Linked DNA regions of Homo sapiens. The protein of the gene in region 1 binds, or shares a complex with, the protein of each later gene. Each region holds a gene or a part of one and is shown on either strand. Other genes may lie near its edges.

Region 1 (3,752 bases):
TCATTTTTCTATATTAATAGTTATATAACTACTAATATGGACTCAAGGAAACGTGGCCCAATTTGCCTTTTTAGTCATTCTACTTGAACCTTATGCTCTAGCTATACCGAATTTCTTAGTGTTCCCCAAACATGAATTTTCACACCACTGTCTTTGCTCGGGTCATTTTCTGCCTGGAATGCTTTTTCATCCCACTGAACATACACAGAACTTACTTCTCAAGGTCCAATTCAAACACTTCCGTTGACAAGCCTTTTCCAATACTCTTTTTTCAAATTTCCCTACTCTGCAATAGAATGCTCTTGCTTCCTCTGCTGTACTACCGGCATGTTTTACACACTTTTTTTTTTTTAGACGAAGTTTCGCTCTTGTCACCCAGGCTGGAGTGCAACTGCGCGATCTCCGCCTCTCGGGTTCAAGCGATTCTCCTGCCTCAGCCTCCTGAGTAGCTAGGATTACAGGCACGTGCCACCAAACCTGGCTAATTTTTGTATTTTTAGTAAAGACAAGGTTTTGCCATGTTGGCCAGGCTGGTCTTGAACTCCTGACCTCGGGTGATTTGCCCCCTTTGGCCTCCCAAAGTGCTGGGATTACAGGCATGAGCCACTGCGCCCGGCCACATATAGGCTTTCTTTTCTTTTTCTTTTTTTTTTTTTTTTTTTTTTGAGACAGAGTTTCGCTCTTGTTGCCCAGGCTGGAATGCAGTGGCACGATCTCAGCTCACTGAAACCTCTGCCTCCAGGGTTCAAGCAATTCTCCTGCCTCAGCCTCCCGCGTATCTGGTATTACAGGCACGCGCCACCACGCCCAGCTAATTTTTTTGTATTTTTAATAGAGACGGGGTTTCACCATGCTGGCCAGGATGGCACATATATTCTTAATTATAGCAATTGCTCCCTTGTGCTGGTATTCGCCTTACGTGTTTGCTTTCTTTTCTAGACTACCAGATCAAATGGCTTATTTCTAGTTTCAAACTGTCACATAGGAAATGTTTGTTAAAACTAATGTTTTATAAAATTTAAAGCTTATTTTACATATTATCTCATTAGATCTCTCAAGAATTCTGTGAGCTTGGCAATGTAGATTGCTGTATATGCATTAGGCTGATGAACAAACAGGCTTAGAGATAGTCACTTGCCCGAGGTTAGTTAGCTGTTAAGTGTTGGGATTGAATCCCAGGTCTTCTCTCCACCACTTTCTACTAAAAATCACTGAAGGTTGTCAACCGACAGATAGGATTACTCTGTGTGTTGATAACAAAAGGGTGATCAATAATATCTGAAAAGGAAACTTTGTGTAAAAGTCTTTCCCTTACCTTAAAAACTACGCCACACTGGAGCATTCTTTCATTCCCCCAATTTAATTCTATCTGGCGAGAAACAATAATGGGCTAAACCATTATTGTATCGTAAGTCAAATTGCCAAAACTTCACAGGCTACTAAAAGTTAACCCTTATTGAATGAATTAAGAACCTTAGAAGTTCTGCTGTTAAAAAAAGCACGGTGACTGTCAGGGTTTTTCAGGTGTGGGGGGTGTGAGGGTTTTAAGAGTTGGATTCCTTTGACTTTGTCTCTATTATTATAGGCTTAGAGGTCCCGGGTAACTACCAATCGCTATCCAAAGGGAAAGCACCCTGTTAGAAATTAAGTAAGAAAAATAGTTTATATTCCCGGTCTGCCATTTCGATTCTAAGCTTTATCTTTATTTAGCTCACAGTTAAAGGGGGCATAGAGCCACACCCACCTCACAAACGCCGCAAGGATTGGGAGACCAGAAAAGTAAAAGTGACTTGCAAACCTTTAGCTCTAAGTCCATAAAAAAGACTATCATATGCTCACATTTCTAATCTTTGCTAGTATAATGTAATCTTTATTTTGAAAACAATGTGCCTCCATTCCTAGTAAAGCGAAAGTCACGGCGCTGCGACCCTCCCTTCAGCGCCTCCGGACTCTCACGCGATACTCGGCTTTCACGCTTTAGTCTAGGGCTGCACTGCAGGAGGAAGAGAAGCGCCTGTGGTGACGCACTTATTCCGCGCGATGACGTCACTGCAAGGCGCCGGGGGACACGTTGGCTGCGTTTTCGGCGGGCTTCCCGGGTACAAAAATGGCTGTGGCTAGCGATTTCTACCTGCGCTACTACGTAGGGCACAAGGGCAAGTTTGGGCACGAGTTTCTGGAGTTCGAATTTCGGCCGGACGGTGAGAAGAGGCCCACGGCACGCGGTGCTGGGAAAGGGGAGCGAGACCGAGAGGCCGGGTGGTGTGGAGGGTACAGGCGGCGGAGGCCACTGCTTCCCTCGAAGGAAATAGGAGCTTAAGAATAGAGGAGGCATAAGTTGGTTTTATAAATGAAAGAGAATTAATTGCAATAAATTAAAGCTAATCCTGTCACAAACTGAAAAGTTGAACCTACAGTAATCAGAATTCTGTAACAGTGCACCAGAAGGGACTCTAGATCGTCGCCCTGATTGAAAATGCTAGCACTTTTTTGAAAACACCCCCACCAGCGGGTGGTCCAGTGGATGAATAAAATCTTGTGGTGACCAGTACCTTTTTTTCATTTAGGCTGTGTGTTTTCTTTGAAGGGGAGGAGCCCAACGTGTTAACAAATGAGAATAATAATATGTTTTAGGTGTTTACGTGTAATTGTTCACCATAGGACGCATGAAGAGTACCAAGCAAGAGGGGAGAGGTAAAGTTCCACAGGAGGGAGTCAGGAAGATCTTCTTAGAGGACGGCACTCTTGAGATGAGTCTCGAAATGAGAGACTTGGCCTTTGAGAGAAAAAAACAGACTTCCAGAGCAGTATGAGCAGAGGATGAGGTGAAACTGCTACCCAAGTAGTGTGCAACAGTGTGTTTTCTGACAGCGCTATCCTTAGAGAATGTTACATTGATCTTGCCTACCTGCAACAAGAAAGTTCATTTGGATATATATTTTTTGGGTTTTTTTGAATGCACGTTTTGTGCTGGACAACAAGCAAATACAAAATTTTAAGGTACAGTAATGAGTAAGACAAATTTAACTAAAGCAGATTTGTCTTGGTGGGAGGCACAGACATTTAACTATAAAGCAGTATGCATATTAAGTCCTATAAGCAGGCTTTGGACAATGTTCTGTGAGAGCAAGAATAAAAAATTAGAGAAGGAACGTATATTAGGAAAGGAGAAGAGTATCAAGCATTTCAGGCAGAACTCACGTTAACTACAGTCCTGCAATTATTATTATTATTATTATTTTGAAACAAGGTCTCACTCTGTCACCCAGATCTGAGTGCAGTGGCACGATCTCAGCTCACTGCAACCTCCCCCTCCCTAGTGCAAGTGATCCCTCACCTCAGCCTGCCGAGGTGCTGGGAATACAGGCCCACGCCACCTCACCCAGCTAATTATGTTATGTTATGTTATGTTATGTTATGTTATGTTATGTTATGTTATGTTATGTTATTTTTTGTAGAGATGGGTTTCCCCATGTTGCCCAGGCTGGCTTCAAACCCCTGAGGTCAAGGGATCCACCAGCGTCAGCCACCCACAGTCCTGGGATTACAAGCATGAGCCACCGGGCCAGCCCTGCAATTATTTAGAAACCTTAATCACTGTATTTAACCTTACCGTCCCCATAAATTCAGCTAAATTTACCTGAATTCATCTATTCTTTATGTAGTATTATTTTCAGTTCCTCTGCCTGCGAACACCATCAAGCTTGTCCCTATCACTTTTAGCAGGTCACATGAATTAAGTACCTGAATAT
Region 2 (3,752 bases), on another chromosome or scaffold:
AGACCAGCCTGGGCAACATGGTGAAACCTTATCTCTACTAAAAGTACGAAAATAGCTGGGAGTGGTGGCATACGCCTGTAGTCCCTGCTACTCAGGAGGCTGAGGCATAAGAATTGCTTGAACCCAGGAGGTGGAGGTTGCAGTGAGCTGAGATCGCGCCATTGCACTCCAGCCTGGGCGACAGAGCAAGACTCTGTCTCCAAAATAAATAAATAATAAATAAAATATAAAGGACACCTATCCCTGTTGCAGTAAGAATTCCAAGTATAACTTTTGACTCACCCAAAACTTAACTACTAAGTCAACTGGAAGCCATACCAATAACATAAACAGTCAGTGAATATGTATTTTATATTTTATGTGTATTATGTACTGTACTCTTACAATGAAGCTAGAGAAAAGAAAATGTTATTAAGAAATCATTCACTATTAAGGAAACATACTATTCAGTGGAAGTGGATCATCATAAAGGTCTTCATCATCTTTGCATTGAGTAGACTTCAGAAGAGGAGGGGTTGATCTTGCTGCCTTGGGTGACAGAGGCAGTGGAAGGAGAGGCAGGCATACTTGCTGCAACTTCTATTGAAAAAAAATTTGCGTAGAAGTGGACCTGAGTAGTTCAAACCCCTTGTTCCAGCGTCAACTATACCCAGATGCTGAGCAGGGAAAAATGAGGAAGAGGGATTAATTGGCTTGTCTGGGCCAATCAGGCTGACTCAGCTCTATTTGAAGAGATGGCAGAAACTTAGAGTTTGAGAGTTTCTCAATCAGGAATTCAGGAATCTCATGTTGAGCCTCTTTGACCAGATTATTGGGGCCAGCCTGGGTCTTGAGTGACAGGGCAGTCTGGTTCAGTTCAAGTATCAGACCCAGTAGGTGAGTGAGAGACCAGTGTACATACATCTACCAGGTTTCAGATGTAACCCACCAATGAAGACTAGACCACCTTTCCTTGAACCCATTTCTCTGTGTTCTCGTAGGCCTCCCTAGCCATAGCTCTGCCTCCTTAGGTCCAAATCTGGGGAGGACAAGGAGAGGAGAGTAACCCTATTCTAAAGCCAGTTCCCTTATCATGAGCCTTAGCTGCTGCCTTTTCCTACCTAGAACTAGCCACACGTCCATTTCCTGGCCCTTTCTAATGGCCTAATGATCCTTTGTGTGTAGACCCAGCACTTTCTGTGTCATGAACAGTGTTACCCAATCTTGATGTGGTAAAAGAGGGAAGAAGATAGTAAAAAGAGAGAGAGAGCACTTGGACTAATTTTTTTCATTTCTGAAATGTGATGGTTGTACAAGTTGTCCTTTAAGGTTTTTTAGGTCAAATTTTTGTAATTATGTGATTCTGGATATGTTCTGGCTGCAGGAATTTTCTGCTGCAGAAAACCAGTACTCATAGGCATTAAAAAAAGCTACCATTTTCCAGCTTGAGGATAAGTGCATTGGGAAATCATGGAGTCATTATCAAGAGTTTGCACATCTGGTTGGGCGCAGTGGCTCATGCCTGTAATCCTAGCACTTTGGGAGGCTGAGGCAGGAGGTTCGCTTGAGCTCAGAAGTTTCAGACCAGCCTGGGTAATGTGGTGAAACTCTGTCTCTACAAAAAATACAAAAATTAGTTGGGCATAGTGGTGTACATCTGTAGTCCCAGCTACTTGTGGGGGCTGAGGTGGGAGGATTACTTGAGCCCAGGAAGTCAAGGCTATAGTCAGTTGAGATCACACCACTGCACTCCAGCCTGGGCGACAGAGTGAGACCCTGTCTCAAAAAAGAGTTGCATGTCTACTCATTCAGTTCTCATTATCTATAGACTAAAATATACATCTCCCCCCTTATGTACTACTATTTTTGAATATATGTAAATTAATAAAATGTAAACTTAAAGTGTTATTGAATGTATAACAGTTTGTTGTTTTTTGTTTGTTTTTGAGACAGTCTCTGTTGTCCAGGTTGGAGTGCAGTGGTGCGATCTCGGTTCACTGCAACCTCTGCCTCCCAGGTTAAAGTGATTCTCCCGCCTCAGCCTCCTGAGTAGCTGGGACTACAGGCACGCACGCATCAGTTCATTGTGTGTTTTTTTTTTTTTTTTTTTGAGACAGGATCTCTCTCTGTTGCTAAGACTGGAGCGCAGTGGCACAATTATGGCTCACTGCAACCTCTACCTCCTGGGCTGAAATGATCTCACACCTCAGCCTCCCAAGTTGCTGGGACTATAGGCGCACACCACCATTCCTGGCGAATTTTTTTTTTTTTTTTTTTTTTTTTGACAGGGTCTCACTCTTTTGCCCAGACTAGTATCAGTGGTGCAATCTTGGCTCACTGCAACCTCCACCTCCTGGGTTTAAGCAATTCTCTTGCCTCAGCCTCCCAAATAGCTGGGATTACAAATTCATGCCACCATGTCTGGCTGATTTTTGTATTTTTAGTAGAGACAGGGTTTCACCATGTTGGCCAGGCTGGTCTCAAACTCCGGACCTCAAGTGATCCACCTACCTCGGCCTCCCAGAGTGTTGGGATTACAGGCGTGAACCACTACATCCAGCCTAGCAGTTGTTTGTCATTGTATGTTTTCTCAGTGAATATCTCATGGGGATCCATGAAAATTTTTAGATCCTAAAAAGGGGTCCGCATAATCAAAAAGGTTGGGAATTTCTGCTCTAAGCCATTTTGAGATGGGAGAGTTCACAACTTACGTCAAAGTATAGTTATTAGGCACTGCATGTTTAAGAGACAATTCATGGGCCAGGTACAGTGTTCATGCCTGTAATCCCAGCCCTTTGGGAGGCCAAGGGAGGAGGATTGCTTGAGCTCAGCAGTTTGAGAACTGCCTAGGCAACATAGCGAGACCTCGTCTCTACTAAAAATAAAAAAAAATCAGCCAGGTGTGGTGGCATGTGCCTGTAGTCGCAGCTACTTGGGAGGCTGAGGTGGGAGGATCACTTGAGCCCAGGAGATTGAGATTGCAGTAAGCCATGATTGTGCCACTGCACTCCTGGGCAACAGAGCAAGACCCTGTCTCAAAACAGAAAAAAAAAAAAAGATAATTCATGGAGAGAGAGATTATCAAGGAAGATTAAGCTCCTCTTATATGTTAGGTATCGTATAGTAAGTCTCCCTTCCATTCTTATCCTCTGGGCCCATTAGAGGCTGCCGCTGTTTTTTTGTTTTTTTGTTTTGCTTTTTCGAGATGGAGTTTTGCTTTTGTCACCCAGGCTGGAGTGCAGTGGCACAAACTTGGCTCACTGCAACCTCCGCCTCCCGGCTAATTTTTGTATTTTTAGTAGAGACAGAGTTTCACCATGTTGGCCAGGCTGGTCTCGAACTCCTGACCTCAAGTGATACGCCTGCCTCGGCCTCCCAAAGTGCTGGGATTACAGGTGTAAGCCACTGCGCCCAGCCTGCCACTTTTAATAATTCTTGCATATGTTCCAGGAATACCTATGTGGATATATATGTATGTATGTGTGTATTTTTTTTAATGTGATATTTTTAAAATAGTGTCTTTTTTTTATTATTACTATTTTTTGCGACAGAGCCTTGCTCTGTCGCCCAGGCTGAAGTGCAGTGGCGCAGTCTCTGCTCACTGCAAGCTCTGCCTCCCTGGTTCAAACGATTTTCCTGCCTCAGCCTCCCGAGCAGCTGGGATTACAGGTGCCTACCACCAAGTGCGGCTAATTCTTATATTTCTAGTAGAGATGGGGTTTTGCCATGCTGGCCAGGTTGGTCTCACACTCCTGACCGCAGGTGATCTGCCT

The links. The genes of interacting proteins can lie anywhere in the genome.
Region 2: MAGOHB (region 1) and CASC3 share a complex: the UniProt entries of both Homo sapiens proteins name them as parts of the mRNA splicing-dependent exon junction complex.

The regions. Positions count from the first base shown.
Region 1 is NC_000012.12:10,611,888-10,615,639, reverse strand, and holds the start of MAGOHB (protein mago nashi homolog 2), read left to right. Parts: upstream 1-2,030; 5' UTR 2,031-2,107; coding exon 2,108-2,201; intron 2,202-2,661; exon of another isoform or gene 2,662-3,000; intron 3,001-3,752. UniProt on the Homo sapiens protein: Required for pre-mRNA splicing as component of the spliceosome. Plays a redundant role with MAGOH in the exon junction complex and in the nonsense-mediated decay (NMD) pathway.
Region 2 is NC_000017.11:40,157,475-40,161,226, forward strand, and holds part of CASC3 (protein CASC3), read left to right. Parts: intron 1-3,752. UniProt on the Homo sapiens protein: Required for pre-mRNA splicing as component of the spliceosome. Core component of the splicing-dependent multiprotein exon junction complex (EJC) deposited at splice junctions on mRNAs.